Regions from separate parts of the Homo sapiens genome. Here regions 2, 3 and 4 are each linked to region 1. Evidence: fine-mapped expression QTL. A gene starts in region 1. Each other region holds a variant in brackets. All regions are shown on one strand. Distances are from middle to middle. Region 1 holds the start of MCF2 (MCF.2 cell line derived transforming sequence). Region 2 overlaps MCF2 (MCF.2 cell line derived transforming sequence). Region 3 overlaps ATP11C (ATPase phospholipid transporting 11C (ATP11C blood group)). Region 4 overlaps MCF2 (MCF.2 cell line derived transforming sequence).

What was found. PIP is the estimated chance that this variant, and not a neighbour inherited with it, causes the effect.
Region 2: its variant is the best candidate, but not a certain one, in a credible set for the expression of MCF2 in thyroid (GTEx, PIP 0.50).
Region 3: its variant is the best candidate, but not a certain one, in a credible set for the expression of MCF2 in whole blood (TOPMed, PIP 0.79).
Region 4: its variant is the best candidate, but not a certain one, in a credible set for the expression of MCF2 in spleen (GTEx, PIP 0.82).

The regions. Positions count from the first base shown.
Region 1 is chrX:139,704,825-139,712,906 of GRCh38, reverse strand. It overlaps MCF2 (MCF.2 cell line derived transforming sequence), which reads left to right and starts at 4,740. Exons shown (of 29, transcript NM_001171876.2): 1 at 4,740-4,801.
Region 2 is chrX:139,631,599-139,639,680 of GRCh38, reverse strand. MCF2 (MCF.2 cell line derived transforming sequence) reads left to right here. Exons shown (of 29, transcript NM_001171876.2): 5 at 7,227-7,346. Among named protein-coding and RNA genes, the nearest start is that of MCF2, 73 kb to the left of the region's middle. The variant C/T (reference allele first, on the strand shown) is at 2,690.
Region 3 is chrX:139,811,932-139,820,013 of GRCh38, reverse strand. ATP11C (ATPase phospholipid transporting 11C (ATP11C blood group)) reads left to right here. Exons shown (of 30, transcript NM_001353812.2): 3 at 587-676; 4 at 3,071-3,151; 5 at 5,029-5,136. Among named protein-coding and RNA genes, the nearest start is that of MCF2, 110 kb to the right of the region's middle. The variant G/A (reference allele first, on the strand shown) is at 3,447.
Region 4 is chrX:139,641,016-139,649,097 of GRCh38, reverse strand. It overlaps MCF2 (MCF.2 cell line derived transforming sequence), which reads left to right. Exons shown (of 29, transcript NM_001171876.2): 3 at 2,195-2,309; 4 at 3,440-3,530. Among named protein-coding and RNA genes, the nearest start is that of MCF2, 63 kb to the left of the region's middle. The variant C/T (reference allele first, on the strand shown) is at 5,046.

The sequences.
Region 1 (8,082 bases):
CATGGGAAGCTTCCATGATAGAGTAACTGAGTATTGCTTGGCTGCAAATTAAAGACAGCGATGTGGGAACACAAGTTCCCTGTGCGTTTTCTGAGTGAGCACTTTCTCGGATGCCTTTCATTATCCCTCTCCTCTCAACTCTTCCACTCCCTAGCTTCTCTTGTACAGTGGTCAGTGGGGTGATTTTCTTGTACCTCCACTCTCTGTGCCCTGGGTTGGGAATATCACACCAGTATGGTGCCAATGAGTGTTCACAGAGAGTTGGAGAAAAGAGGTGGCAGAGATTAAAATGCATAAATCATAGAATTCCCAAAAGAATATTTTTAAGACAAGTTAACAAGTAACTCTGTCCTTTTGGTACAAGAAACAAACCAGAAAGCAAACAAAACCCATAAAAACTATTTGTTCAAATTGTGAAAACTATCTTGCATTATTATATTGTAAGAATAAGTTTAGAAAACTGTTGCACTTCAGGCAAAAGTCCATTTTAATTGACCTGAGGTTTTGCTAAATTCAATAAGAATTTTATTTTTTTCTGATTATACTGACGATACTTGCTCAAAATCAAGCAATACCTAATAATATAAACATAAAAGTCACTTAGTATCACAACCCCCCTGAGGTAACCATATTTTTTTGAATATGTATATGTATATATACACATATACACAACATATATACATATATAATTTTGTATCTATTGAACTATGTTATACACACTATAATTTTAAACCATAAAAAGTCGTATGATTGTTCTATATAAATTAATTCATATATATATGACTTTTAAATAGCTGTGTGGCATTTCATTTATTTCATGCACATGGTTTAACTATTTCCTAGTTTATTATATAAATTTCTCCTCCTCCTCTTGCCTGCTATTATGAATAACATGGCAATGTATTCTGTACAAAAATATTTCCATTCCTGCCCGAGTAGCTTCTTGGTGTAAAGTCAAAAATGTGGAATTCCTGGGGCAAAAGATATGTACATGACAAACTGTCTTTGAGAAAAGCTATATGAATCTGTGCCCGCAACAACAGTCAGCCAGTTTACCCTCCCCATTCTCAGCATTAAGTGCTCTCCATCTTTAATCATTCCTCATAGATCTGGGGTCAGCAACCCAGTCAGCATCTTTAGGGCTGTAGGGAAAAAAAGGTAATGAAGAATGTCTGACCAAGACTATATGTGGCCCACAAAGGGGGACATTTCTATTATCTTAGCTGTTTACAGAAAAAAAAATTTGCCAACTCCTGGATTAAAGGAAAAATAGTGTTTACTCTTGGTAATATTAGCTTTTCTTTGCTTATTTGTGAGTTCCAATAGATTTTCCATGTACATGTGGGTGTTTATATTTCCTCTTTTGTCAATTACACTTCCTTCACCCATTGTCCTATTAAGTTGCTCACCTTTTTTACTCATTATAATTCTGTATATTAGAATATGTGCATGTTGTCATGTATTTCACAAATATTTTTCTCTGTGTCAATTAATCATTAAGAATGTATCTTTTATATTGCACAGAAAGTTTTAGTGTTTATGCAATCAAAGCAAATATTCCGAGAATGATAGCAGGTGCTACTTTAGATATGGTAGTAAAAGAAGTTCTCTCTGACAAGGTGACATTTGAGCAGAGAACTGAATTAAGTGAGAGAGGGAGCCATTCATATATATGGATGAAGGGGAATCCAGGCCATGTGAACAGCAAATGCCCAGACCCCAAGATAGGAGCTTTCATGGCATATTGGAGGTACTGCCAGGAGGTCACTGTGACCAAAATGGAGGGAGATTGGTAGGAGTTGAAATTAGGTATGGAAGGATGAGAGCATGTAGAGCTGTGTAGACTATGATAAGGACATTAGATTTGATTCTGAATTCCAGTAGAAGTCTGGAATATTATGAACAGAGGAGTGACATAATCTCACTTAAGTTTTAAAAGGATCACTTCTATTTTTGGTATCTTTTAAAAATATGTGTTATATTTTCTTGTTGTAAAGTAAATGCATGTCCATTTTCAATTATATAGATAACATACAAAAAAGAACCAAGTAAGGATGATAGTATTTTAATAAGCTTTTCTGGATATATATATTTACCTTTATCTACATATATTAAGGTTGGGACATACCTTAAAGATCTTCTGGCCCAGAAATAAATCCAGGCATTTATGGTCAACTGTTCTTCAAAAAAGTTGCCAAAAACACACAATGGAGAAAAGACAGCCTCATCAATAAATGGTGTTGGGAAAACTGGATATACACATGCAAAACAATGAAATTAGACACATCTCACACCATGTGCAAAAATCAACTCAAAATGGATTAAAGACTTAAAGGTAAGACCTCAAACTGAATGTTCTCACCACAAAGATATGACAAATATATGAGGTCATGGATATGCTAATTACCCTGATTTCATCATTATACAGTGTATACATGTATTAAAACATCACACTGCACTCCATAAATTTTATATATATATATATATATATATATACATATGTATGTATTTGCTATGTGTCAATTCAAAATAAGTAACATAGAAGAAAAGTTTCTTGACATTAGTCTAGGCAGAGATTTTTTGGATATGACCCCAAAAGCACAGACAACAAAAGGAAATATAGACAAATGGGATAGCATTAAACTAAAAAGTTTTCTGTACATCAAAGGAAACAACTGAGTCAAAAGACCATCTATGGAATGGGAAAAATACTTACAGACCATACATCTGATAAGTGGTTAATACCCAAGATATATAAAGAACTCAACTCAATAGCAAAAAGTAGTAAATAACCCAATTAAAAATGGTCAAAGAACCTGAGTAGACATTTCTTAAAAAGAAGACATACAAATGGCCAACCAGTATATGACAAAATGTTCAACATCACTTATCATCACAAAAATGCAAATTAAAACCACATTTAGATAACATTTTGCACCTGTTAGGGTAGCAATTATCAAAAACATAAGATAACAAGTGCTTGTGAGGATGTGGAGAAAAGGGAGCCCTTGTTGGTGGGAATGTAAATTAGCACAGCCACTATGGAAAACAGTATGAATGTTCTGGCCCAGAAAAAATCCAGGCATTTATGGTCATATTATCAATTACCATATGATCCAGCAATGCCACTACTGGGTATATATCCAAAGAAAATGAAATCAGTCTGTCAAAGAGATATCTACACTCCCATGTTCATTGCAGCACTCTTCACAATAGCCAAGATATGGAAGCAACCTCAAGAAAATATTTTTTATATATACTGTATATATATATATATATATATATATATATGAATGATAGCATTCGTGTCTATATAGTGTATATATATACGAATAGCATTCGTATATATAGTATATGCTATATATGCTATGTATATAGTATATGCTATATATGCTATGTATATAGTATATGCTATATATACTATATACATAGTATATATAGCATATACTATATACATAGTATATGCTATATATACTATGTATATAGTATATGCTATATATGCTATGTATATAGTATATGCTATATATGCTATGTATATAGTATATGCTATATATGCTATGTATATAGTATATGCTATATATGCTATGTATATAGTATATGCTATATATACTATACTATATATACACAAATGCTATTCAGCCTTTAAAAAAGAATGAAATTCTGTCATTTGTGACAGTACGGATGAACCTAGTGGACATTATGCTAAGTGAAATAATCCAGACACAGAAAGAAAAATACTGTATGATCTCACTCCTATGGGGAATCTAAAAAAGTCAAACTCATAGAAGTAGAAAGTAGAATGGTGGTTTCCAGAGGATGGGGCAGGGTTTTGGGAGATGTTGGTCAAAGGATGCATCATTACACGTAGACAGGAGGACAAAGATCAAGAGATCTATTTTTTAATTTTTAAATTTTTTTTCATATTTTTATTTGTATATATTTTTTGAGATGGAGTCTTACTTTATTGCCCAGGCTGGAGTGCAGTGGTGTGATCTCAGCTCACTGCAACCTCTGCCTCTTGGCTTCAAGCGATTCTCCTGCCTCAGCCTCCTGAGTAGGTGGGATTACAGGTGTCCGCCATCACACCCAGCTAATTTTTGTATTTTTAGTAGATATGAGGTTTCACCATGTTGGCCAGGCTTGTCTCGAACTCGTGACCTCAAGTGATCCACCCACCTCGGCCCCCCAAAGTGCTGGGATTACAGGTGTGAGCCGCTGCGCCCTGCCAAGAAACCTATTGTACATCATGATAACTATAGTTAATAACAATATATTGTGTACTTGAAAACTGCTAAGAGAGTAGATTTTACATGTTCCCACCACAAAAAGGATACATATGTGAGGTAAAGAAAGTATTAATTAGCTTGATTTAGCCATTCCAGGATGTATACATACATCAGAAATCATATTGTACACCATACAATTTTTATTTGTCGTGTACAAAAAAAGATATGCCCAGCTTCTTCTGCATTTTGTGCAGAAGTATTTTGTTTTCAAACTGTCGGGCTAACTCTTGAGTGGGCGTTCTGTTTCTCCAGATTTGTCCTTGTAAATAAAAAAAAAAATTAGGTCTCCTTCCTCTACTGTGATACAGTGTATGATTTATAATTTTGTTTCTGGGTTCTACTTCAAGTCAAGGCTTCTCTACACTTTCAGTTGCTGACATCAGATTGGCTTTGAAACTTTTTTTCATGTTAAGAGCAAGAAGGCTTTTGTTCTTGGAGCAGGCAGAGAGTATTGTACATTCTTTTGGCCGAGGAAACAGAATGAGCTGCGACAGTCTTAAGGACAAACATTTGTGGTAAGTATTTCTTTACCTTAGAGTAATATAAGAAATGGATTGGGGCAATGAGTGGGTCAGTCTTGGAATATTTTTATAGATAGCATCCCCCATAGCCAGTCATTTTCATTCTTGTAGTAGTTTCCCCTTTTCCCCAGAATCCCCCATTTCTAGGACCAATGATTTGCAGGACACAGTGCAGTTCTTGTAAAGGTGTATCTGTCCATACAGACCGCAATAGCCTGCTTTGGGTTTCTCTGACAGTTCTTTGTCTACTGTTCAGTTTTTTCTAAAATAATTAGGATTCCCAAGTAAAGGCAGGTGGGAATTTCTCAACTCTGGATTAGAACTTCACCACTGTAAACCTGGAACTATTAGTATAACAAATCTGGTGTGCACCTGGGCTTCATGGGATGGCTGTACCTTGGTGTGGTTCCTATGCAATGTATGGGCCTCAGTCTCTGAGCCGTCTAGGGATTAGGACTTGAGAAATTGCCTTGTGAACTTGCATATGGTTGGCTTATAAATTTGGACAGCAGATTATTTATTTTCAGTGGGTAAAAGACCATTCCATTATTTGTGTCCAGTTCTTTTTAAGCACGCAAATTTTCCAGACCAAGAAGAACTACCTTGGTCCCCAGAAGGTAGCCGGGGGGATGTAGACTTGGAGAGCAAAGAAAAATGGGAGGTCTTGAGGGCAATCTTCCAAAAGAATATGGTGATGTTTCTCACATTTTTTAAAGCAGGGTCTCTAGTGAGGCAAAACCACATTTTATTCTTGCCTCTATAGTATTTATTTGTGGAGGTAGAAAGTTTCTGGGGAAGGAGTGGGACTGTTTATATGAAGAACCTAGAGGTCTTCTCAGAATGAAAGGATTGGAAACTCCAACCCTTTTTTTCTCTGATATGCAAGGTTCTTGAAAGTTGCTTGAGGGGCCCAAAAAGATCCTAAGGAAAACTCACCAAACTTGGTGAGAAAGAGGTAGAAAGGGATGGGAGCAGCTCCCTCCCAGAGCCCTCCATCCTTCTTTTTTCATCTGAGCTGGTTACTCTGCCGGCTAGCTGCACATCTCTTTCTGAAATTCCCTTTGTCTGTGCTCCTGTATCGGATCATTATTTCCTAGATTCATTGTCTTGCTCTTCATTGATGTACTTCATCATTTTTTTGGGGAATACATTCTCTACTAACTTCTTTATATGGGTTATAAACTTTTATTAATAATAATAATAATAATAATTATGTCTGAAAATATCTTAGACAACCTTTATTTTTGTTTGAGAGTCTGACGCAGTATAAAGTTCCAAGCTGAAAAACCTTTTCCCCCCTGATTTTGTGTTTATTTTTCCATTAGTTTGTAGAATCCAGTGTTGCTATTGAGAAGTTCAATGTCATTTTGTTTCATTTTTTTTCAACTTTAATTTTAGATAAGGGGGTACATGTGCAGATTTGTCATATGGGAATATTACATGATGCTGAGGCTTAAGGTACAGATCCTGTCATCCTGGTAGTGAGCATAGTACCCAATAGTTGTTTTTTTTTTTATCCTCCCCACCTCCCTGCACCCTCTAGTAGTCCACAATATCTGTTGTTCCCATATTAATGTCCATGTGTGCTCAATGCTTAGCTCCCTTCATAAATGAGAACATGTGGTATTTGGTTTTCTGTTCCTGCACTAACTTGCTTAGAATTATGGCCTCCAGCTCCGTGCATGTTGCTGCAAAGAATGATTTCTTTCTTTTTTATGGCTGCCTAGTATTCCATAATGTATATGTAGCACATTTTCTTTATCCCATTTACCACTGATGGGAACCTGGGTTGACTCCATGTCTTTGCTATTGTGAACAGTGCAGTGATGAACATACAAGTGCATGTGTCTTTTTGGTAGAATAATTTCTTTTGGGTACATACCCAGTAATGGGATTGCTGTGTCCAGTGGTAGAATTGTTTTAAGTTCTTTCAGAAATCTCCAGACTGCTTTCCACAGCGGCTGGACTAATTTACATTTCCACCAACAGTGTATAAGTGTTTGCTTTTCTCTGCTGCCTTGCCAGCCAGCATCTGTTGTTTTTTGACTTTTTAGTAATAGCCATTCTGACTGGTGTGAGATGGTATCTCATTGTGGTTTTGATTTGCATTTCTCTGATGATAGTGATGCTGAGTATTGTTTCATATATTTGTTGGCCATTTGTATGTCTTCTTTCGAAAAGTGCCTGTTCATGTCATTTGCCCACTTTTTAATGGTGTTATTTGGTTTTTACTTGTTAATTTTTTCAAGTTCCCTATAGATTCTGAGTATTAGACCTTTGTCAGATACATAGTTTGCAAATATCTTCTCCCATTCTGTAGGTTGTCTGTTTGCTCTGCTGATAGTTTCTTTTGCTGTACAGAAGCTCTTTAGTTTAATGAGGTCCCACTGGTCTATTTCTGGTTTTATTGCAATTGCTTTTAGGGACTTAGCCAAAAATTCTTTACCAAGGCCAATGTCGAAAAGAGTATTTCCTAGGTTTTCTTCCAGGATTTCTATAGTTTGAGATCTTACATTAAAATCTTTAATCCATTTTTAGTTAATTTTTGCATATGGAGAAAGGTATGGGCCCAGCTTCAATCTTCTGCATATGGCTAGCCAGTTATCTCAGCACCATTTACTGAATATGGAATTGTTTTCCCACTGCTTGTTTTGGTTGGCCTTGTCAAAGATCAGATGGTTGTAGCTGTGCAGCTTTATTTCTGAGTTCTCTATTCTGTTCCATTGGTCTATGTGTCTGTTTTTGTACCACTACCAAGCTGTCTTTATTTGTTTGTTTGTTTGTTTTTGAGACTGAGTCTCACTCTGTCGCCTAGGCTGGAGTGCAATGGTGTGATCTCAGCTCACTGCAACCTATGCCCCTGGATTCAAGCAATTCTCCTGCCTCAGCCTCCCCAGTAGCTGGAATTACAGGTGCCCGCCACCACGCCTGGCTGATTTGTGTATGTTTTAGTAGAGATGGGGTTTCACCATGTTGGCCAGGCTGGTTTCAAACTCCTGACCTCAAGTGATCTGGCCACCTCAGCCTCCCAAAGTGCTGGGATTACAGATGTGAGCCACTGTGCCCAGCCACCCAAGTTGTTTTGTTTACTGTGGCTTTATAGTGTAGTTTGAAGTTGGGTAGTGTGATGCCTCCGTCTTTGTTCTTTTTGCTTTGGATTGCTTTGGTTATTTGGGCTCTTTTTTGGTTTCATGTGAATTTTAGAATAGTTTTTTTTTTTTCTAATTGTGTGAAGAATGCCATTAGCAGTTTGATAGGAATAGCACTGAATCTGT
Region 2 (8,082 bases), 73 kb after region 1:
CTTCGGTAGTGAAATGATGTATTTGGTTTACGCCTGCTCTTGTTGTTATTGTTGTTGTTACTGCTGTAAGATCATAGAACTAGGCAATCTGGAAGTACGTGTGAGTAAAAGGGAGTAAATCTGTTCTCTGGGAGGGAAAGATGAGAGGGAGCTTATTTTGTGCTCGTTACCTTGAAGAGCCTGTAAGAGCTGCTGCTGAGGGCTGGGGTGGGACCACGTACAGTGATTGGACACATGGCTCCGAGTCCTATGTGATAGGCAGCTGGTTCGCTTTTACTGAGATGTCTTTAAGCAGTCACATGCTGGAACTCCAGAAAAATGTCTGCGAGAACCTAAAACCAATGCTGTTTCCTCTCTCGTGCAAACTATTTTTTTAAAAAAGCAAAAACACATTGAAATAAAACAAGACTAACCTTTGCCCAAATCCCTTTGCTTTTTTGACAAGTTCTCAAAAATGAATTATACTTTCAAAATCTCAGTTTTTATTTTGGGGAAAAAGAAATTGTGCTTTTTCATGTTTATATAACCATACAGATTAGAGGTTCTTAAAGCAGCATACCCAAGAATTTAGAAATATAATATTCCCAAACCAAAATGGGAAAGTTCACTGGTCTTGAACTATATTTGCTTTGATATGTGCATCTGATACCCTATGCTGTTTGATTGTTCATTTAAATACTAGCTTTAAAATGGATTATCTTGAGAATTTTAGTTGTTACAAATATTGGTATATAGAGAAAAAGTACTCTCTATATATACTTATATGTATATCAACATAGATACATACAAACTAATCTTAAATGTATATGGCTTGTCAGGTTAAAATTGCTCAAGAGTGTTCTGTCCCCTCTAGATTCTCATAGCCGGCAATCACAGATAAGGACGTGTCCATATTATTGATATTGATTGATGTTCAGATCTATGAAGCTTTTTGGTTCAGAGGTTGCAAATTGTCAGTGCACAGATGCGTTTTGTTTAGAGTATGCAGCATTTTAACAAACTTTCAATTTGTTTTCCATCTTTAAACATCTGGGCTTTGCATGACAATCTGGATTTCTGTCTTCTCTTGAGAAACCAAAGAGTTGGCAATGCTGGGCCCACCTTGCCACATGACAACATGTAGCTGGAACTGATTTATGAGTGAACTGACTTATGAGTGCCCTCTGCTTTGAATGTTCTCCAGTTCACCATGGTCCCCACCACTTCCTGTTGCTCCTCGTCATATAGGAGGAGTATGAATTGCTATTTTCCACCTAATTTAGGCTGTTCTTTAATTAAGCCTACTTCACATTTACATTATCTCCCTAACACATGGTAGGCATTCAAGTTTGTCACCTCTGCTTTAGGTCTCAGGTTTAGATTCTCAACCAACCTGATTCTTGTGTCATCCCTGCTATAACTTCTGCAAATTCCTCTTGTTGACTGAGTCTAGTTCAACAGGCAGGTGAAGCGGGGTTTTAATTCTGCTACTTATGTGCTAGAAGGTCTTGAAAAATTGCCTGACCTCACAAAACCTCAATGTGTTAGTTCCCTATTGCTGCTGTAATAGATTACTACAAACTTAGTGGCTTAAAACAGTGAAAATGTATCATTACGGTTCTGGAGGTCAGAAGTCCAAGATTACCCAACTGGGCTAAAAATCAAGGGTCAGCAGAGCTGTGTTCCTTCTGGAGTCTCTAGAGAAGAATCTGTTTCTTTGACTTTTCTAGCTTGCAGAGATCGTCCACATTCCTTGGTTTATACCCCTGCATCACTTTGACCTCTGCCATCACATCTTCTTCTCTGACTCTCCTGCCTCCCTCTTATCCTAATGATTACATCGGTCCCACCATGATAATCCCGGATAATCTCCCCATATCAAGATCCTTAATCACATTTATAAAGTCTCTTTTACCATATAAGATAACATATTACCAGGTTCCAGGGATTAGGATGTAGACATCTTTGAGGATAATGGCACTCAGTTTCTCCAGTTGTGAAATGAGGACAAAAATAGAACCTACTGCATGTAAATACTTAGCACAATGTCATAATAGTGCTCTTTATGGGCATAATTCTAGTAGTATGCATTCAATAAATGACATTTCCACCCCTGTCCAACTCTCCAATCTCCTTTCCCTACCTTAAAGCTTTGAGAGGTCCTGAATATATAAATATACATAAATATACGTATTTTTTTTGCTAAAGAGAAGCTATGAAAAGTAGTCATAAATGTCATACTTTAAAAGTGTGACAGTTTGGTAGGCACCTGTTATGGTCTGGGTTAAGTGAATGGGAGTGGGATTAAAAATTCAGGTATGTCTTATTCACGTGTGGGCACGAGGGATGAAAACAACACACCTGGTCTAAACTATATGATTTAGTTTTCTAGAAAAATAACTGACAAATCAGATGAATTGTTTGAGTGCCACCTGATTGCTCTGATTGCTTAGTAGTTGTGTAGCTATTGCCTACAAGTTATTTAGTCTCCCAAATGGCTACTAAAATTGGGAGTAACTATTGGGTTAACAGAATCCATGTGCTCTAGGAAGATATGCAAAAAAGATTATAAAATTGTACTATAAACTATAACAAAAAATATTGTAAATGTTATTATGTAGTCAATAAATGAAGTTTTCATCCTTTGATGGTGCATTTTCTTTAAAAGCCCAAGTTTTTCTGGGCTTTTTGTGACAAGTGAATTACTAAA[C/T]ATTTTGAAGGAATTAAGGAATGAGAAGGTATGCTAAGATAATCAGAAGGTTTTACTTAAGAATGAACTGATTAGCATATAGAATTATCTTTAGAAGCAACTTATATAGCCGTCAATGTTTGGGATAATCCACTTTATTAAATAGAGCAATAACAGGTTTAATAAACATCCAACATAAAATCCCTAGCTTATGAGCAGCTGAATACCCCTACCCCTGCTTAAAATCACTTCCCCACTCATCTTGCAGACGGTGATTTTCCTTCTCTCTCCTTTCTTTCTACTTTGTTCCCTGCTATGTGATCAGCTGTCTCTGGACCTGGCTGCTGGTACAGCCTTGCTCTCCTAGGAATGGCAGAGTAGAGAGCAGGGCCTTACCTCAGGCAGAGAGTTGCTACATAGCTCTCTCTATTCCCATAGTATCCTCCCATCCCCTCCTCCCTCACACATAATTTTGGAGATGGGTGAGTACCCCTGGCTTGAAGTCAGCCCCAGGTTCTTGTATCCAGATAATTCTAGATACAAGAGAATATGAGATTAAGGGAAGTCAGAGAGAGAAAGATGAAACCAGATCAACTTAGAATCCATGAAAGAATAAAAGTAATTTTGCTTTAAATGTTGGCAAAAGTAGGGTGCTTTCAATTTCATTTAAAAGTGAAAAAATAAACAGGTTCAAGGCAGGTGAGTATAATAATATAATGGGAATTTACCCAGGTGAAGAAAAAGGAAAGGCTTAACTCCTAAAATTAAGGGAGTAAAAATAGAATCTGTGCTTTCCACTTAAAAATAGGCCAAAAGTTCCCACAAGTCCCTGTCAGATTCTTCCCTTAAGCTAGCCTTTATCCATATCCCTAAAGTTTTCTACCCAAACCTGCTTGTTCTGACGTCCGAGAATCCAAGGCAAAATTTTAAAACTATCTTATTAATATTTTTTACAGTTTAAAAAGTGCCTTTTCATGTCCTTGGCCCACTTTTTAATGGGGTTGTTTGTTTTTCTCTTGTAAATTTGTTTAAGTTCCTTAAATACTGCATGTTCTCACTTATAAGTGGGAGCTAAATAAGAAGTTATGAACACAAAGAAGGAAACAACAGACACGGGTCTACTTGAGGGTGGAGGGTGGGAGGAGGGAGAGGAGCAGAAAAGATCACTATTGGGTACTGAGCTTAATACCTAGGTGAAGGAATAATATGTACAACAACCCCCACTGTGACACGTGTTTGTCTCTGTAACCTTTGCATATACCCCCAAACCTAAAATAAAAATTTTAGAAGTGCCTTTATATTCATTATTTCTTTTAATTCCTGTAATAACTGGAAAACATATATATATATTTTTTTTCGGCAGAGTCTCACCCTGTTGCCCAGGCTGGAGTGCAGTGGCATAATCTCAGATCACCACAGCCTCCACCTCCTGGGTTCAAGTGATTCTCATGCTTCAGCCTCCCCAGGAGCGGGGACCACAGGCGTGTGCCAACACACCCGGCTAATTTTTTGTATTTTTAGTAGAAACGGGTTTTCACCATGTTGGCCAGGCTGGTCTCGAACTCCTGGCCTCAAATAATCCTCCCACCTCAGCTTCCCAAAGTGCTGGGATTACAGGTGTGAGCCACCGTGTCCAGCTGGAAAATACATATTATACTTAACATAAAATAAAATATACATTACGTACATAATAGAAGGTAGGATATACATTACCGTTGGAACTCTCTGTTTCTCTGTCTCTCTCTGTTTCTGTATACATGTTAACTTTATTCTTTTCAATGTTTCCCCAGCAGCAGGGCTCTTGGCAATCTGCTGCTTTTGAATGGCATCCTCAAAGTTTCCTTCACTCAGTATTCGTTTGAAAATTCTAGGGCAGGACTTCTTTGGCCCTGCTTACATCAAATGTTCATACTTATGTTTTTTCTTTTTCTTTTTTAAAAAGATGAGGTCTCGCTCTGTCGCCATCATGGCTCACTGCAGGCTCAACTTCCTGGGCTCAAGTGATCCTCCCGCCTCAGCCTCCTGAGTAACTGGAACCATAGGCGCATGCCACCATGACTGGATAATTTTTAAATTTTTTGTAGAGATGGGGTCTCACTATGTTGTCCAAGCTGTTCTGGAACTCCTGGCCTCAAGTGATCCTCCATCCTCGGTCTCCTAGCCTGTTGGGATTACAGGCATGAATCACCATGTCTGGCCCTAATCATACTTCTAATCACTATTAATCATTGTGTGTTGGAAGGGCAGGGCCGTGTAGGAAAATAAGAGTTCTCATTTGGAACCAATGTGTAGAATAATAGAAGGGGGAGTCGTTTCTCAGATGAAGGGAGAGAGTAACAGTCATGGCCTCCTGGGGGAATTATGAGTTGGACAGCCATCCCAATTTATGTATATTGATAATCATTGTTTAATTTATTGATTTAATTTTATGCTCTTTTAATTTACTTATTTGTGCTTATCACACTCATTTCTCTTTCATTTACTCTAGTTCTCATTGCCACTTAACATTTTATGTTTTATCACCATCTCAAATTGAATTAGGAAAATCCCCAGTTTTGAGCATCATTTCCCAAAGAGTCTATGTTTTATACCCTGGTGGAAGTTACTTTTTTCTTTTATTTTAAAATAGACTTTATTTTTTTAGAGCAGTTTTAAGTTCACAACAAAATTTAACAGGAAGTACAGAGAGTTCCCATAAACTCCTTGCCCCACAGTATCTTATTCTTAGTTTATAGTTTTGTTTAATTACTAGTATTGTAATATGCCTGAAATATAATTGCAGTTGGAACATTTTTCATATATTTTGCTCTATTATGCTCTAATCTGCCATCTTGAGGCTGATGGCTCCTGATTCTCCACTTTTAGCCTAGACTTCTTTCCCTTCTTAATTGTACAAACAGCTATCCGAAGGACATCATCTGGATGTCCTGCTGACCCTTCCAACCTAACGTGTATATGAATGGAGATCAGAATCTTGTTTCCCTTCTTAAAACCTGTTTCTCTTGTGTTTCCCATCTCAGTGAAGGTTGTACTATTCAACCAGTTACTCAAGCCCCAAATCTGGAGTTTGATCCTCCTAGTACCTCCTTTCTCGGCAAGTACATCAAGTAGTTATGTCTTGCTGATTGTGCCTCCTAAATTCTACTCTTATTCCTGGTATCATTACTTTAGTTCAGAAACTCATCATTCCTGGCTTGGATTACTGTACCAGCCTCCTAGCTCATCTGTCTGCTTCTACTCTTGTTCAAATCCAGTTCTTCCCAAAGCCAAAGTGATCTTTCTAAAATGCAAATTTGACCATGTTGTTCTGATGCTCAAAACCTTTTAGAGACTCCCCTTACCTCCAGGAAAAAAAAACCCATGATCCTTTCTGATGTGGTTCTGGCCCGTTTTCCCAACACCATCTCCCATTGTCCCCCAGTGTCATTTCATCTAGCTCTCTTGACTAGGGCCTTTTCAGGAGGTGGAGTAGTTTAGTGATTAAGAGCACAGACTTAGGGGCAAATGAAGGCTTTGCCAGCTGGGGGAAGGTATCCTTAAACTCTCTGAGTCTCACTTTCTTTATTTGTAAAAGTGAGTAACCTAACTCCTTCATAGAATTATTATGAAAAGAATTTATGATAATATTGGCAAAATGCTTTGCACAGAGTAAGCATTTAGTACGTGGTGATTTGTTATTAAAATTGGGATATGTTACTCCGTTCTCCACTTATTTTGCAATGTGTCCTCCTTCTTTGTCTTTTGAATTCTTTAGTGTAGCAGTTATTTTTGACTGCATACTATGTGCCAGCAAGTTCTAGACGCTGGGGAAACATTGGTGAACTAGAACAACATTCTGATCCAGTTAACTCCTCGTTATGCTTCAAGATCTTTTTGACCTTCCTATGTCTCGGAGAGTTTGTGCTATCATTTCCCCTTGTATATTATTCTAATTCCTTTGATTACTTATCAATTTAGTTAAAGAATTGCTGATTAGTAATGGACTCTGCAGTTGAACTGTTGGGTAGAGATTGTGTTTTCTTAATTTGTGAACATTCAATGCCTAACAGAGCTTGATATTCATTTAAATACATGAAGTAGACACATAGAAGATGTTCAGTAAATATTGATTGGATTAAAATAAAAATATAATCCCATAATAAAGTTTTCTTTCATTGTTTAGTGTAAATACACAGACAAAAACCCTTTGACTTTTAGGGTTATCCTAGGAAACTGCCACCTAATTCTATTTGTTTTTATAGGAAATAAGTGCAATTTGAGTTCAAATAACTCTAAAATAAGATTTAGAGTCTATTTCTTCATAAGGTTGGATCTACTTCTTTAGTGTGAGAAAATTTCGTACCAGAAGTGTTGCAAGGATCTGACCTGGAGCCTTACATTATTTTTCTATTTGCATGTTTTTAGATTTTATCAATATCCATTTGTAAAGTGTTGGCCTTTTACTGGCTTTTATGAATTTAAAATTTGTTTCCTTCAGTTACATATTTTCTGATATGTGCTCAGTTGAGTGTGTGTTGACAATTTTTTTTCCAATTTCTTTTGTTCTTTCTTTCTACAGGCTTCCTTCCCTGGGAACTTGCACTTGGTTTTGGTTTTACGTCCTACCAGCTTTCTTCAACGAACGTTCACAGACATTGGATTTTGGTTTAGTCAGGAGGATTTTATGCTTAAATTACCAGTAAGAGTATATTATTTAAATGTTTTGTTCCTCTAATTCTCATGAAGACCTGTACCATGCTGTTTATATTTTACATGTGCCCATGTGTCATTTAAAAGAAAAAAATTAAAATGTCTTTTAAAAGTATACATTTGAAATGCCCAAAAGTCTTTCACTTCTACCATTTGAAAAAGAAATCGATTCATCAATTTATAACAAAGCAATTACTTTTGCAAAAAATATATGTCATATATGTTATATATATGTGTATATATGTATGTGTGCATGTGTGTATATGTATGTGCGTGTATGTGTATATAAGCAGGAAATTTTATTTTTAGTAAAATTGAGTGTATGTTTTATGTATTTGAACTCCCGTGAACTTACATCCTGAGCTAGTCCAGAGTACCATGACTTTTTAAAAATATTTTTGTTTGTTTTTAAGGTTAGGAATAGGGTGCTCATAAATTTTGATACTTTTGAAAAGGTCAGCCCCTCCTGATAAATTATAACTTACTACATAAAGTCCTTTTCTTTGTTGTGAGCATAGCATTCTTTTAGAAGCTGGACCATTAACAATGCAAACTTTTAGATGGAGGAAAATTAGGCGTTTTGGTTTCTGTGGAGATTGATTTAGCTTTACAGAAAATGTTTTGTAAATAGAAACTGTTATTATCTGAAGAAGGTAGCGCATACATGTATGGGGGCATGTACAGGAGAGAACTGTTAAAACCATTTATCAGAGGTAACTTTCTGC
Region 3 (8,082 bases), 110 kb before region 1:
GGGTTTTGCCATGTTGGCCAGGCTGGTCTCAAACTCCTGACTTCAGGTGATCTGCCTGCCTTGGCCTCCCAGAGTGCTGGGATTACAGGTGTGAACCACTGTGCCTGGCCATCCAAATAATTTATTGTCTGCCTTGTACCAGGCACTGTGTTGAGTGTTGGGAAAATTGTAAACAATACAGGTGAACAACCTGCTCCTATAGAACTCTTTGCTTATCAAGGGAGAAACTTTAATTTAAAATGTACACATATATAACTCACTATAATAAGTGTTATCAAGTAAGTATATATAGGGTGACATGAGAACACATAACAAGGAACCTAATTTAGATTGGGTCAGAGAAAGCAAAGGTATGAGACTAGATGGTTATTGTAATGCGTAGAATGAAAGCTTCATTTCTGAAAAAGGTTTTCATATACAGTGCCTCTAAATATATGCTTATGTATATGTGTGAGATTTCAGTTTCAAAGTGTTGGACATACTAAATATCACTTTATATGATAATGTGGACCCATAATCAGTCATTACTATTAAGATTTTTCAAGTTTTCTTCATAACAGTGTTCTTTTTTCTTCCTCCCTTACAGTATACACTTTGGAATTTTCTCCCAAAGAATCTGTTTGAACAGTTTAGAAGAATTGCAAATTTTTATTTTCTCATAATCTTCCTTGTACAGGTAAGAGCTCCTTAAACAGCCACTTAACTTTTAGAAACTTGATTGCTTTAAACGAATTTTCAATCTATTTCTAACCTTAAAATGCCATGTAATTAAAAAAAGACATTCCAGAGCTTATTATGACTTCTTAAAGTAGAAACATAACATTTAAAGATTATCATTTTGTAAATTTCTAAAGTTGTGTTTTTACTAGAAAACCTGTTGAGATTTTGTTTCATTGTTACTTTCTTTGAAATTTTCATGGATATCATATTTTTGCTCATCCCAGGATGACGTGTATTGTGTACCATTAAATGAAATGGAATATATCAAAACTGAAAATAGTTCAAACTAGTAGTTTTATTTTGTTACATACCAGTTTCAGCCTAATTGGAAACTTCTCACTCATCTTCCTGATTACCATTTTTGCTCTCTCTCATTCATTTACTCACTGTAAGGGTGAGAGCCTAGTTAGATCAATCTGCTTCTCTGTATTCTTTCTACTGTTTTGTGTTTTAAATTTTAGACAGTTTAAATTGTGTCTTCCATCTTTAAATCTGTAAGCTATTAAAATCTTTTCCTCGCCATAATTACCCCTGAAAATTTTACTACATTAAAGGTACTTTTTTTCTCATTTCATTTTTTAAATGAAGCAGAAAAATCCCATTGAAGTTGCTCCAATGCCCTGTTGATGTTAAGTGCTTCTGTTGACTCACTTTGAGGCTTTGAGTAAATGGTACTGTAATTGAATTTAGCCTTGCTACTTAAAATCAGTCTGGGATATAATATGGGCAAGAGCCTATTTTAATCCTGAATGATGGAAGATTTGAAAAGGAGCTCCTCTGGATCTATGGTCAGATGTCTTACAGATATAGAATAAACTACCTAGAGGATTCTGCTTGAAAGAATCATTCTACTTGGTGGGCAGTGCATTTCATTTCAGTTCAGCAAATGTATACCACTCACCTACCTACTATGTGCTGTGCAGTAGGACAGACAACAAAAATGGTAGCAGGTACAATGAAGATCAAGATATGGCTTTTCTACTCTTAAAGAATTTATGCTATAGCTGAGAAGACCAGTCACATAACAGTTATGTATTCACTTAATGTAGTAAAGCCATTCAAGAAGCATTAACAGAATGCTTTGGGTATACAGTGTAAGTTATCATTTTTTTCTACCCAAGAGGAATTTGATAAGGCTTCAGAGAATAGATGCTATCTGAACAGAGCCTTTAAGGATTAGAAGGATTTACTTGGTGGAGAATGCTGAACTGGTATTTCAGGGATAGGGAAGAGATTGCCTAAAGTCACAGAGCCATGTAGAAGCCTTGCGTACATGGAAGTATACATTGTATCTACAACACAGGGTGTATGGCAGAGGCAGGGCTTGTTGAGGGTTGGAGATGAGAGTCAACGAGTTGGGAGGGCAGACTGAACTCAAAATCATCCTCCCTTAAATGTAGTTCTTTTTCAGTATTTCCTGTGTCAGTAAATGATGACAACATTCACCTAGACATGCTAACCCGATACTTGGAAGACATCTTTAATATTAGCATTTACATCTAACTCTTGGCATTTTTGCCTCCTAAATATTTATAGAACTTCTTTCCATGCCTGCCGCTAACACTAGTCCAAGCCCATCATCTTTCACCTAGATTACAGCAATAGCCTCCTAAATAGACTCCCTGCCTTCACTCTTGTTCCCTTCTAATTCATCTTCCACAGAGCAGTAAGAATGATCTTTTCAAAATGCAGTTCTGTTCATGTGACCTTTCCTTGCTTAAAACTTTCAAGGATTTCCTGCTATTTGTGGGATAGAGAATGAACAGCTTACTTTGGCCTAGAGGGCCCTGCACAGTCTGGCTCCTGCCTCCCTCTCCAGCCCCATCTCACACCACACTCCCTCTCGCCACTGGCTTCCTTTATTTCCTAGAGACCTGCATATACTGTTCACTGTGCCTAGAAAACTACCTTTCGTCTAGTTAACTCCTGTTTACCCTTCAGACCTCAGCATCTACACACTTGTTTTACTGTCTGATTTTTCCTGTAAGCTGCCAGCTACATGAAGGCAGGGACTTGTCTCCATCTTGTTTAAAGCAGTATCTCTAGAGCTTTGCTGATAATAGCACAAGCGCTGACAGAATGGTGCTCAGCAAATAGGTGGTAAGTGAATGGATATATTTCAATAAAGGGGTTAATCCAAGCTGGGATAAAAACTATGCCTGAATTTAGGACTATTTCTTAAACTAACTGCCATGTAGTTTGCTTTTGTTTTAATGAAAATTAATATTTACCCTACTACTGGAAAGTGTTTTGTCTATGTTTCTGTTTGAAATGTTTGCAGCATGTAAGTGCTGCATATGAGTTAATGACAAATTTTCATTTTACTTTCAATTTAATTTTATTTACCTAGGTCACAGTAGACACACCAACTAGCCCAGTTACCAGTGGACTTCCACTTTTCTTTGTTATAACTGTTACAGCCATCAAGCAGGTAAATTTCTTATTTACACTTGCACCTGCATTTCAGTCCAGGCTTGTTGGAATTTCATTGTCAAAGGCTCTTTTTCATATTTATATACAGTGGGTAGTATCCTTTATGGATTTATTTTATATTTGGTTCCTCTTGAAAACCTATTAAAATGATAGGCACATCCTTAATGTATTTCCTTGTTTCCTCTTAAATATCTGTGTATGTGGGTGTAAATGTAAAAGAAAGAGCAGGTAAAAGGTACAGCCCAGTCAGGAAATAGGAGGCAGATTTTTTAATGCATATTAATTGTTTCAGC[G/A]TGGTATGTCTGTGTGAAAAACTCCCATTTTTGTGGATTTTTAAAAATTGCTTAAGCCTGTAGCGAGAACTCAAGGGAAGAATACTTTAATTTTCTTGTTTTTTCCTTCTACTGCTTCAGGGGGTAGTAGGTAGAGGGGACATTTCCTGTTTTTTGTCAGAGCTGATAGACTGCCACAGATTGTGATATGGATGTCTTTGAAGTATTTTGAACATTTTGTATGCTAGTATGTTTGAAAAATTGCAGATGAAAATGGAAACAGGAAATTGGAGGTGAAAGGGTAGGTTAACAATGTTAATCATGTTTTGTGTCAGTCCACAGCATCTGACTATTTACAAACATATTTTTAGATGATATTTAACAAAGTGCTTTTAAAAAGGGTACCAAAGAAGCTTGCAAAACAAAGGTCTTCTTAGCATTATTGGGAACAAGATTACCTTTCCTCTTGGGGTTATCTGGTCTTATATCTTGCCTACCAGGAACTATAAGAATATTTTATCAAGTGTTCAGTTGCAAAATAAAGACTTTTGGAATGTTCTTTTCCTTAGACTGATAGGATTATTTTCTTTAACATCATAAAATTGCTGGTTCCAAGAATAGCATGTGTGGTTTTCAAAGGCTTTTTTACTGATTCATTCTGCTCCCAATACTGGTTCATGTTAGGACCTTTATTTCTTCACCAGCATCACAAAATGTACTCTATAAAGTGATAGCTTAGCATTGTCATAAAGAGGACAGAAGAAGAATGGATATAGTACCTGAGGGGAAAAAGTGGGGGGAGGCGATGAAGAGACTTTTCAAACAGTTGTGTTTGAAAAGGTACAGACATTCTTACAACGAAAAAAGACAAAGGTATATAAAAAAGGAGAGGAGGTCATGATCAAACATTCATGAACATCCTTTAGATCTTTTGGCTTAAATCTACTTTAGATGAAAAGTCCAAAGTAAAATGAGCCATTAGATCTTTCTCTGATTACTTTTAACTGGAAACGATGAATACCAATTTATATTTTCTTTTGTCACCAAGTCAGTTGAAAAGTTTAGCTGTTGATCTCTACAACTTATCATAGCTTCTCTGCCAAAACAATCCTTGCTTGCCTTTTCTATTATTCTCTGTGGGTGAGAAATAATTAAAATACTCCCTTGGAGATGATTACTCGAACAGTCTACTACAGCATATACAAAAGATTATATGTAAGTGATTATGGCTATAAGAAAATACAAACCCAGGACAATCTTTTTTCAAATTAAAAAATAGAATTAACTAACTCAAGAGTACAGTTAAAATAAATCATAGCCTTTCACACATGAAAATATTAAGTCTCCAGTGCTTGTGTTTTCATTAATGTTTAAAGAGTGGAGAAAACTTTTAACACAACAAAGCTATTTATCTAAGGAGTATTTTGAAAGTGTGTCTCAGATTTGCTATTAAAATGTGTAGCATTGTCTCTTTAGCATTCTGAGTTTAAATTAATGCTATAATTATAAATATTTGGTGTTGACTCATGGGAGGATATAGAAATTTATTAACAGCTTTATTTCATTATCAGAACTCAATTATATAGTTATTTTTATCTTTCAGGGATATGAGGATTGTCTGAGACACAGAGCTGACAATGAAGTCAACAAAAGCACTGTTTACATTATTGAAAATGCAAAGCGAGTGAGAAAAGAAAGTGAAAAAATCAAGGTATTTTTTCTTAGTCCACTCCTTTTTTAATGGTAAAAATACACCATTTTAAAGTGTATAATTTAGTGTCATTTAGTACTTTATAATGTTGTGCAACCGTTAACTCTATCTAGTTCCAGAACATTTTCATCACCCGAAAAGGAAACCCTATACCCATAAGCAGTCACTCCACATTTCTCCCTCCTCCCAGGCCCTGGCAATACTAACCTTCTTTCTGTCCCTATGGATGTATGTATTCTGAATGTTTCATATTTCTTATGTGTCCTTTTTGTCTAGCTTCTTTCACTCAGAATGTTTTTGAGGTTCATCTGCATTATAGTATATAGCAGCATTTCATTCCTTTTGATAGCTGAATAACATTTCATTTTATTTATTCACCAGCTGATGGACATTTGGGTTGTTTCTACCTTTTGGGTATTATGAATTGCTATGAACATTGAATTACAGTTTTTGTTTGAACATCTGTTTTTAATTCTTTGAGGTATATACCTAGGAGGAAAATTGCTGGGTCATATTGTAATTACGTGTTTAACTTTTTAATGAACCACTAAACTATTTTCCATAGTGCCTGTACCATTTTACATTCCCATCAGCAACATAAGAGACTTCCAAGGTAGTAGTATTTTTTTTTTTGACAATCTCAGGCAATTGTTTATTCCAGTTAATCATTGTTTATTATTTACCCAGTAAGACCCTGTCAAATAACATTTTTGACTTGTCCATGTCAAACACTAATTTTTTGGTTCTCATTAGATTTTTTAAATTAAAAAATTATATTTTTAGAGCAGTTTTAGGTTCACAGGAAAATTGAGTAGAAAATATAGAGAGTACCCATAAACCCACTGTCCCCAAACACATTTTCTCTGGCTGTCAACATCCCACACCAGAATGGTACATTTGTTACAATCAGTGAACCTATTTTGGCACACTATCACCCAAAGTCCATAGATTATATTAGGGGTCACTCTTGGTGTACATTCTGTGGGTTTTGTTAAATATAGGATACATATCCACATAGCCTACATTTGTATATATGTACATATGTATCCATAGTAGTGTCATACCAGGATAGTTTCACTGCCCTAAAAATCTTCTGTTCTCTTCCTGTTCATTCCTTATTCCCCCCAACCCATGGTAACCAGCGATCTTTCTGCTGTCTCTATAGTTTTGCCTTTCCTAGGATGTCACATATTTAGAATCATACAGCCTTTTCAGATTGGCTTCTTTCACTTAGTAATATGCTTTCAAGTTTCTTCCATGTCTTTCCATGGCTTGATAGCTCATTTGTTTCTAGTGATGAATAATATTTCATTTTCTGGATATACCATAGTTTATCCATTCACCTACTGAAGGGCATTTTAGTTGCCTCCGAGTTTTGGCAATTATGAGTAAAACTGCTATAAACATTTGTGTGCAGGTTTTTATATGGACATACATTTTCAATTCATTTGAGTAAATACAAAGAAGTGCTGAATTGTATGGTAAGAGTATGTTTCGTTTTGTAAGAAACTGCCAAACTATCTTCCAAAGTAGCTGTATCATTTTGCATTCTCACCAACAATGAATGGGAGTTCTTGTTGTTCCACATCCTCACTGGGTTTTGATGTTCTCAGTGCTTTGTATGTTGGCCATTTTAACAGGTGTGTAGTACTATCTCACTTTTGTCTTAATTAGCATTTCACTGATAACATATGATATGGACTTTCTTTTCATATGGTTCTTTGTCATCTGTATATCTTCATTGGTGAGATGCTGCTTAGATTTTGCCCATTTTTAAAGCAGGTTGTTTTCTTATTGAATTTTAAGAATTCTCCATATGCCCAACAATAGTTAAATTTCCTTGCATCATCTTATAGTAATGATGGGAGGAAGACTACAGAGTGGGAGGGTCACCAGTGTTTGACATAGAATGTCTTCCTTTTTCTACTTTTTCTTTTCTCTATTCTTTACATCCTGGTCAAGGGGGAACTTGTGCCGAACTAGGTTAGGTTAAGATCTGAAGTTTTTGAAACAACTGTAGAAACTCAGCATTATTGATCAGCGTAAGAACCAAAGGCAGACTGAGTACAGTGGCTTACGCCTGTAATCCCAGCACTCTGGGAGGCCAAGTTGGGTGGATCGCTTGAGTCCAGGAGTTGGAATCCATCCTGGGCAACATGGCAAAACCCTGTCTCTCCAAAAAAATTAGCCAGGCAGTCCCAGCTACTTGGGAGGCTGAGGTGGGAGGATCACCTGAGCCCAAAAAGTTGAGGCTGCGGTGATCCGAGATCGAGCCACTGCACTCCAGCCTGGGTGACAGAGTGAGACCCTGTCTCAAAAAAAAAAAAAAACCAACAACAGTAACAACAAACAAAGGCTGCCTAAATGATTCATAGCATCCAATCTGTTGTTCCCAGTACACTACGTAAAATTGCAAAGCAGGCAAAGGCCTCTTACATCTCTCCCTTTCTTTCATTTCCTCTTTCTGATTTTGTTGACACTCCACCCCACTCCCCTTTACAAAGGCCCCCATTTTTCATTTTCCCTCCACCAAGCTTCTTTTCCTTGAGGCTGAACTCAACCAGGTATAATCTTGATTAAATAAATGTGAAGCTATTGTGATTAAATTATTGTGTGAGATGCTATTTGATGTAGCTGTTTCTGGAGTGTAAGTGTGTGGGAAGAGATGCTTATTAGCCAGCAGTCTCTAAATAGCAGATTGCTTGGCTGGGGAGTCGGGGGAAAGAGTTTGTTGAGACTCCTTTTGAGCAAGAGAGAGACTTGGTCTGCATCCTTAGTGTGGTGGGGAGTCTTTGAAGTGTTAAAGCCGGAGAGTGACTTGATGATTTTTAAAAATAAAACTGGAGTGAGGCAAAATGAAAGCATGAATGTGCAATCAGAGAGATATAGCTTAGGCAAAAAATGATAAGGGCTTATATTAGGATGATAGTAGTATTGATAACAATA
Region 4 (8,082 bases), 64 kb after region 1:
TGTATTCTGCTTTTGTTGGATGGAGTGTTCTAGAAATGTCAATTAGGTCATGTTGGTTGAGACTGTTGTTCAGGTATACAATATCCTTGCAAATTCTTTGTCTACTTGTTCTATCAATTATTGAGAGATGGGTGGTGAAATATCTGACTAAAATTGTGAATTTGTCTATTTCCTCTTGCCACTCTATCAGTTTTTGCTTTGTGTATTTTGAAGCTCTGTTATTAGGTGCATAAGCATTTAAGATTATGTCCCATTGATGAATCGACCACTTTATCATGATCAAATGATCATTTTAATATCTGGTAATATTTTCGACTCTGAAATCTACTTTGTCAAATATTAGACAGCTTTGTTTTGATTAGCACTGTCATGGTATATCTTTTTCTATCCTTTGCTTTTAATAATTTGTACTTTTATATTTAAAATGTGTGTTTCTTGTGGGCAGCATATAATTCAGTCTTTCTTTTTATCCAGTTTGATGATCTTTGACTTTTAATTGCAGTGCCTAGATCATTGACATTTTATGTGATTATTCATATGGATGGATTTAAATCTACCATCTTACTATCATATAATAAGCAAAATACAAATAGTGAGATGGTAGCTTTTCCCATTTGTCCCATGTGTTCTTTGTTTTCCTCCATTTCTGTCTTCTTTTGCGTTGAGTATTGTTGTGATTCCATTTTATATCCTTTTCTTTTTCTTTCTTTTTGGGGGGGGCGTGGAGAGACGGGGTCTTGCTCTGTTGTCCAGGCTGGAGTGTAGTGGCATGATCTTGGCTCACCGCAACCTTTGCCTCCCAGGTTCAAGCGATTCTCCTGCCTCAACCTCCGGAGTAGCTGGGATTACAGGCGTGCACCACCACACCCGGCTAATTTTTGTATTTTTGGTAGAGACAGGGTTTCAACATGTTGGCCAGGCTGGTCTTGTACTCCTGACCTCAAGTGATCCTCTGGCTTCGGCCTCCCAAAGTGCTGGGGTTACAGGCATGAACCACTGTGCCCGGCCTGTATCCTTTTCTATTGTCATATTTTTATTGCAGATTGAATTAAAAATATTTTTACATCTTTATTCACTTAAATTCAGCCAAATAAAAATTACAACTGAACTAAAAAAATTTCTATTGCTGAGCTAATTTCAAAGGCCACCTTGCAACTTTCCTCCTAAAATAATTCTTCAGATTCTATTTGGCACTTAGTATTTATTGAGCATTCGCTCTCTGTGTAGGTGCTAGGCTGGCTGCAGATGTGAACCTTAAACACATGTAAGGCTCATCTCTGCACTTAAGTGGCTTTCGTTTTCAATATTTCTCATCCTTCAGGCTGCATAGAGGGCTATTGGGCTGGGTGGAGAAACGGGTAGAAACCAAAATGAAAGCCCAGAGCTGGTGCAATCATTCCCTCACCAAGAACCCCTATGACAGTTACCATTATTCCTGGTTCCTATGGAAATGGGCTTAGGGCAGCCTCACCTATGAGCACTGGGATCCATGCTTTCCAGGAGTCAAGGTCACCCACTTGGTCAAGATACTGCTGGATGCAACTGCTCCAGGTTAATGGCTGCATGGGTCTGCGGGGAGCTTCCACAACCCTACACCTCTGCCTGGACCCCTACCCAGGCTGAACATTGAATTTTGACCCACAGATAATTTGTGATCTTTCTTTGCATTAATAAAATTCCTATGTCATTCCTGCCATCATTCCTTTTGTTGTTTCTTCCATAAACACATTAGACCATCACCTATTTCCTATAGGGTGCTCTGTATCTTTTCCTGCTCACCATGACACTAAGAGATCGATTATATCAAATTTTCCACTTGCTGTCAAGCCATCATTCACTCATTTTAAATTTAGGCTCATTGGTATAGAAACAGTTATTTCCCAACCCCTTGGTTGTCCAGATTGGGGAATCAGCTATTTTCCACTGTATTTATTATATGCATTTCATGACATTTTCTTCTGACTATATTCATTCATTTTACTCTCTTTCTTTTTCTTTTTTTATTGAGAAACTACTCTGCCACCTTTTAAACTTAAAGTGTCAGGAACTTGGAGCCATTTTGGTTTTATGTGGAGATCATCATCTTTGCAAAAAAGTTGTGTTGCTGCAAAACAGTATTCAAATCTAAAATCCTCTTCTTGCTTCGTTGTTATATACATTTTTAATTCAGTTGATTATTTTTCTATTGTTGTAGGTGGCCGGGGAAAGGACAATGCTTGGATCATTACGTTTCCAGAAAACTGTAATTTTAGATGTATACCAGAGGAAGTAATAGCAAAAGTACTTACTTACCTGACATCTATTGCAAGGTATAGTATTTCATTACATTTTTTTCAATTCGCTTTATATCAGATATCCATCTGAATGTCATAACATGAAAATGGCTTAATATAGCTATTATTATCATGGTGAATAACCAACTGACTTAACTTCAGAGTAGATAAGAAGTACAACTTAGAAGGAGAAGCTGGCAGCTACCTAAATTGTTACAAAAATTATCCTGAGAATCTATGAAAATAAAATTGGGGATCTAGGAGTATTTGTTCCCATCAAAAAGAACATAGGTTGAGAACGATGGTCATACATATATGCTTTAATTTGCTTAAAAGGAAATATTACCAGCCAAGAGTGAGTACAGCCATTTTTCATTTCTTCTGAATATAACACAAGAAGACTGAATCTTAAGTAGATTCAATAGTGGTACTGGGAGATACTAGGAGGAATGTCTTGAAATTAAAAATTATTTGGAACTAGAATGCTTTAAAATGGAAAGTTTAAAAAGGTTTCTTAGAGATTTTATGTGTGTTAAAGACAAAATTTTCAAAGGAAGAATTTTCTAGTTACTAACCCTGAAGAACAAGAGGACACAAATCTAGGATGATAAAATTCAAAGTCTCATGAACAAAAATCAAATCTCAGAAAATGAAACTTACAATGTACCTATTGAAGCTTGAAAGTGATATTTTTAGGGCAAATAGAAGTTATATTTTCCATTAAACTGCATTTCCTCAGGAGCAGACTAGAGTTAGAAAAATAGATTTAGCAGTGTGATTTTGAATGAGTGAATGGATCATTGACTCATGATGGATTGCATGGAAAGTTAAATCTGATATCATGAAGGACACTTATCTTTTGAGTTTTCCCACACCCAAGATTACAGTATTCTAAATCAATTTTAGTGACCTATCTTCATTACACTATCACTTTCCTATTTAAAAGATTGACATTAATGCTGCAAAAGAAATTTTAAATAGTGAGTAAGGGAATATGTATTCAGATTAGTTTTCTAAGATAGGACTTTGTGATAGCTTTCCAATTCCAAATCTGTCTTCAGTCAAGACATCAAATGTAGATGAAATAATCAGAAATAGAATGAAGGCATATATAACAAATTTGCATTATTATTAAGAAAAAGTTCTTATTTCTTCTTATCGTTCAGGCAAAATGGATCAGACTCCCGGTTTACCATTATTCTGGATCGAAGATTGGATACATGGTCTTCTCTCAAAATCTCTCTCCAAAAAATCTCGGTAAGTATCTATGCATTATACAGTAACTTTTTATTTTTGTTTTATATTATACTTTCTGTTTTGGGAGGTATAGATTACTTTGGTACTGACGGAGACAATAAAAATTGATGGAATGTGAGGAGGGAAAGTAGAAGGAGAGGTTGTAGCAGAGACTGAGATAAATAACTCTACCCAAAATAAAACCTAGTAAGAATGAGTGAGTAGTTTGTGGCTCCAGTTATGAGTGAGAAGAGATTCATGGTTCTATGTGCCTTTCAGGACAAGGCAAGTTTTTATGGAAGCTTTTTAAAATTATTTATTTATTTATTTATTTTGGTGGAAATAGCTGTGTTGCATACTCGTATGTGAAAAAGTATAAAGAAGAAAGTTTAAAACAATAGTAATCCAACCACCCCAAAATAAGCAGTTTTTAACATTTCAGTGTACAACTTTCTAGATTTGTTTTACCCTAGGATAGGGTAGGGAGATGAGTCACATATAAAATGATATATAACTTCCCTACTGGTATCTAGTCCCCAGGTTCCCAAGACCCAGAGAGAGAAACATTTTCTCTAATTAAAATAACGAGAGGTACAATTCTGCCCATGACCAAGATAATCTTTTACACTTTTAGGCTCACAAGGGTATCACAAAATTGTTTGACACTTCACTTTCATAGACGAGGAGGGAGATGAGGGACCCCCAGACTCCTTCTGAGCTGGCAAGATATGGGCTCTCTGTGGAAGTGCCATGTGGCCAACTTCCTCTATCAGACTAGAATAGCTGGGAATCAATATATTTTTTTTCTTTGAGATTCCAACATTGCCAGCCATCTGAAATTCTTACTTTGTCTCCTGACTGATTGAGGAGGTCACGCCCACCACAAGAACTTGATTTAGTTGCAAAGGCAAAACAAAAATCTAGGTTGTTGGACTTCCAAGCCAATGTTCTAGCACTTGCAAGGTAAAATGGGTAAGATCATTATTCTTTTAATACTCAGAATGAATTATTCCTCACTTTGGACAAATAAGCAAAAAGTGGTTTCCTGTTTATTTAACAGAGGTGTTTAATCATTAGCAGTGGAGAGAAGAGTTAACATTAGATATACTCAAATTACTAAAATAAAATAGAAGAAAATTTGACTTTCTATAGCATATTAGTGCTTTTTCAAAAGCATTCACATTTATTAAGTATTGTTGATTCTCTTCATTTCCTGATTAAGTACTGCAAGTAGGTATCACTATAATTGTCTTATAGATGATGAAATCACATTGATATTTATACTTTGGAATGGCTATGTGATGAATCCAAGCTCAAATAGCCAAGTAACCAAAAAAGCCAGAGCAAGAATTGAAATGTCAAGAATTCCAGTTGGTGATGGTTTCTATCATTTTCCAATTGGCTTACAAATAGACAAATACATTCAATGTTATTTAGATAAAGGTAAAATTTCTTTTGAGAGATTAGATCTGTCCTCCATATACAATTGAGCCTTATCAGTGGGGCTAAATAAAGTAAAAGCTATTTCCCTTGCTC[C/T]GGTCTTTTAGGATTGGTCCTTGGGCTTGCTGAGTAGACCTTGGTTTATGCTAATAATTGCTTCTCTTATACTAAATAAAGCACTTGTTACATTAGAACATTTTTTATCACCCAGGTTTTTTTCTTTTGGCCAACACTGCACCCGCCTGATTAAATTAATTTTCATTTTGTGACTGGTTTGGCACCTGACGTTAGTTTTTTTGGTAGAGTTTTATTTTTATTATTCAAAATAGGTGGCTTGTAACAGAGGTTCTATTTTTCATAAAAGAGAAATATAAGATTAGGTCATGATCCTGTCATTTTGAAGTCAACAGAGGGTAATTACTTGTCTACCGGGGAGTGATACTCCTCTTTCTGTATTCCCAGGGCTGCTTTCTCAGTGGAGAATTTTGACCTATGCTCAGTAAAGAACTTGGATCCCAGGGTCCCTTTATTTTCATAACTGCCAAATTGATCGTGCTGGGCAAGGGAGGGGTACAGATTCTGACCACATGTAACTGGCTATAGGTTGTTTTAGGTGTTTCTTTTTTAACATGTTAAATGTTTTTGCTTGTGGTATAGTTTCTATACTCATACTCAAGAGCACATTAATTACATCTCAACCATTAGTAACTGTTGGTTACTGTTTGAAATAAAGGTAAATATTGAATGCAAGCTAATTTCAAGTGCAAAAGTTGGCATTCAGAAAGGATTTCTAGTGAAATCTACCATTGTGTAGCTAGGTATAATTGCCTGTGGTGTATTATTTCAAACAAGTGTCTGTGAAATAATCATACAATTCAATTTGAATACCTTTATTTGTAGATTTCAAAACAAATAAAAGCATTTAGGTTGTATTTCATAATTAATGAGAGGAGACTTTATTTTAGTTATACATTTTGGGGAAAGGTTAATTTGGGAGAGAATTGTATCCGTCTTAGAAAGTTTGCATGTTCTATTCTTTCTAGATTATTACCAGGACAAAATTTTGCAAACTATAGCCTTTCACAAGGCTTAAACCCAGAATACAATAACAGAGAAAACAAAACAGAATTGAAATTTAAGTCACATACCAGGGTAGGACGAGAGTAAAAAGCATGAGTTAATACTACCTTCACAAAGATTCTTAGCATTCCACCTTAAAAATCAAACTGCGCAGAGGAGAAAGCCAGTCCCATCAAGCCTGCTCCTAGGAAGAGAGCTGGTTTTTTTTTCCTCCTCCTTCCACTCTTAGGACATGCCTGATCTTCTTGAGCAGTCCAGCACAAGCTAATCCACAAGGTTCAATCAGGCTAAGTAATTGGAGGAATGTGTTAACTCTGAATTACAAGGAGCAGAAGGGAAGGATCTGTCAGCTGACTAATCAGGGATAGTGGTTTTTTTTTTTTTTTCCTCCCCAGCATTGCTGCCACTGTGCTAATGGAAGCAGCCACGGCAGCTTTGTTTGATAGAGATTTTTGGCTGCCGTTTTTAAATACTACCCAAGAAGCAGCTCGTATTTCATCAACGTTGCGTTGACAATTGGAAAAGAAAAGTGTAATTGCGTACAGGCGAAATGGCAGAAGCAAATCCCCGGAGAGGCAAGATGAGGTTCAGAAGGAATGCGGTAAGGGCTCTGTCTGCACTCCTGGAAAGCCTGTTCCCAAGTTCAAGTGCTGGGATGCTGCAGCATGGTGCTATAGCACAAACTGCTGAGTAGGGTTTTTAAGGACAGATGGAGAGAATGGAGACTTATATTTGCATGGATTGCATTGATGTGATTACTGTGATATTGACATAGGGTAATTTTCAGGCAATTGAGGGGGTAGAATATAATTTCAAAATCTAAATGTCATCAGGTTTATGAATGAGCACCTTAGTCATGTTATTCGTTTAAGACTGTATGAACAATTTTGAATCATTGGACAGCATAGCTTTAAATAATGACTTAAAACAATATCTAACAAAAGGATTCATCCTTTCTTTCACCATGATCAAGTAGAGTATATTGCCATGGATAGGTCTGGAGGGGATTCCATCATCACTTAAAAATGCAGCCTTTCCTGGGTGTTACCGTATAAGTGAATAAATTTAAAATCTGTAATGATTTGAAATCCTTATGGTTTCAATTCTTCTCCAAACTGAAACTTCGTAGGTACAAAATTGTCACCTGCTGACAACTTTTTTCTTTTAGGGAAAAAGACAGTAACTCACTTTTCAATATAGACTAGAATTTGGAAGTCTCTCCTCTCAGGTACATTTCATGCAGTCTTTTGCCTAAATTTTCCCTTCATTCATTTATTCATATAGTAAATTCCCAGCAAATTTCTAATGTGATCTTTAGATGTATTTTGGAGAAATGTTGAAATAACACTAGCTAATTTAATAAAAAACTAATCATCAAAAAGGCTTTAAATGCCACTCTTTTTCTTTCAAAGATTAATATAATGTTATTGATGTTATGGTTTAAAATATAAACTTGCTCACTAAAAATATCGAGATAACACACACACACAGATAAGAAGGTAAAAATTGACCATAGGAAAAAAATGACAGTTTGAATTAAAATTATGATAAGGAAAGTAAGACTTTTATTATTGTTGAATGACAGTGAACATCAATAGGTGTGTAAATGATTTATTTTCTAATAAAGCTCTTAGCACAGACTGCTATTTTAAAAACTATAGTTGGCTTTATTTTGACAAAATTATATCTTTGGCTCTATACATGTTTTTATATTATGAGAATATAGATTCAGACTTTTAACAGACGATTTATGGTGCACAAGAAATGTTTGTGTATGTACTTTGCAGTATTGTAGGCAACTGATATTAGCACTTTTGTTATCAAAGGTTAACTTAAGCTTTCAGAAAGTTCCTAATTATATATATACATATATTTATATATATATTTATATATATATATATTCTCAGTGCTGAACTTAGTTTTATGTCTATACACATGCATTAATATACACACAATAAATACAGCACAGGGGTACTCACTGAATAGACATATCTAGCACTGTGATATATACAACATAAGTTACAAAGGTAAATATGGAATGGCTACTGGGCTG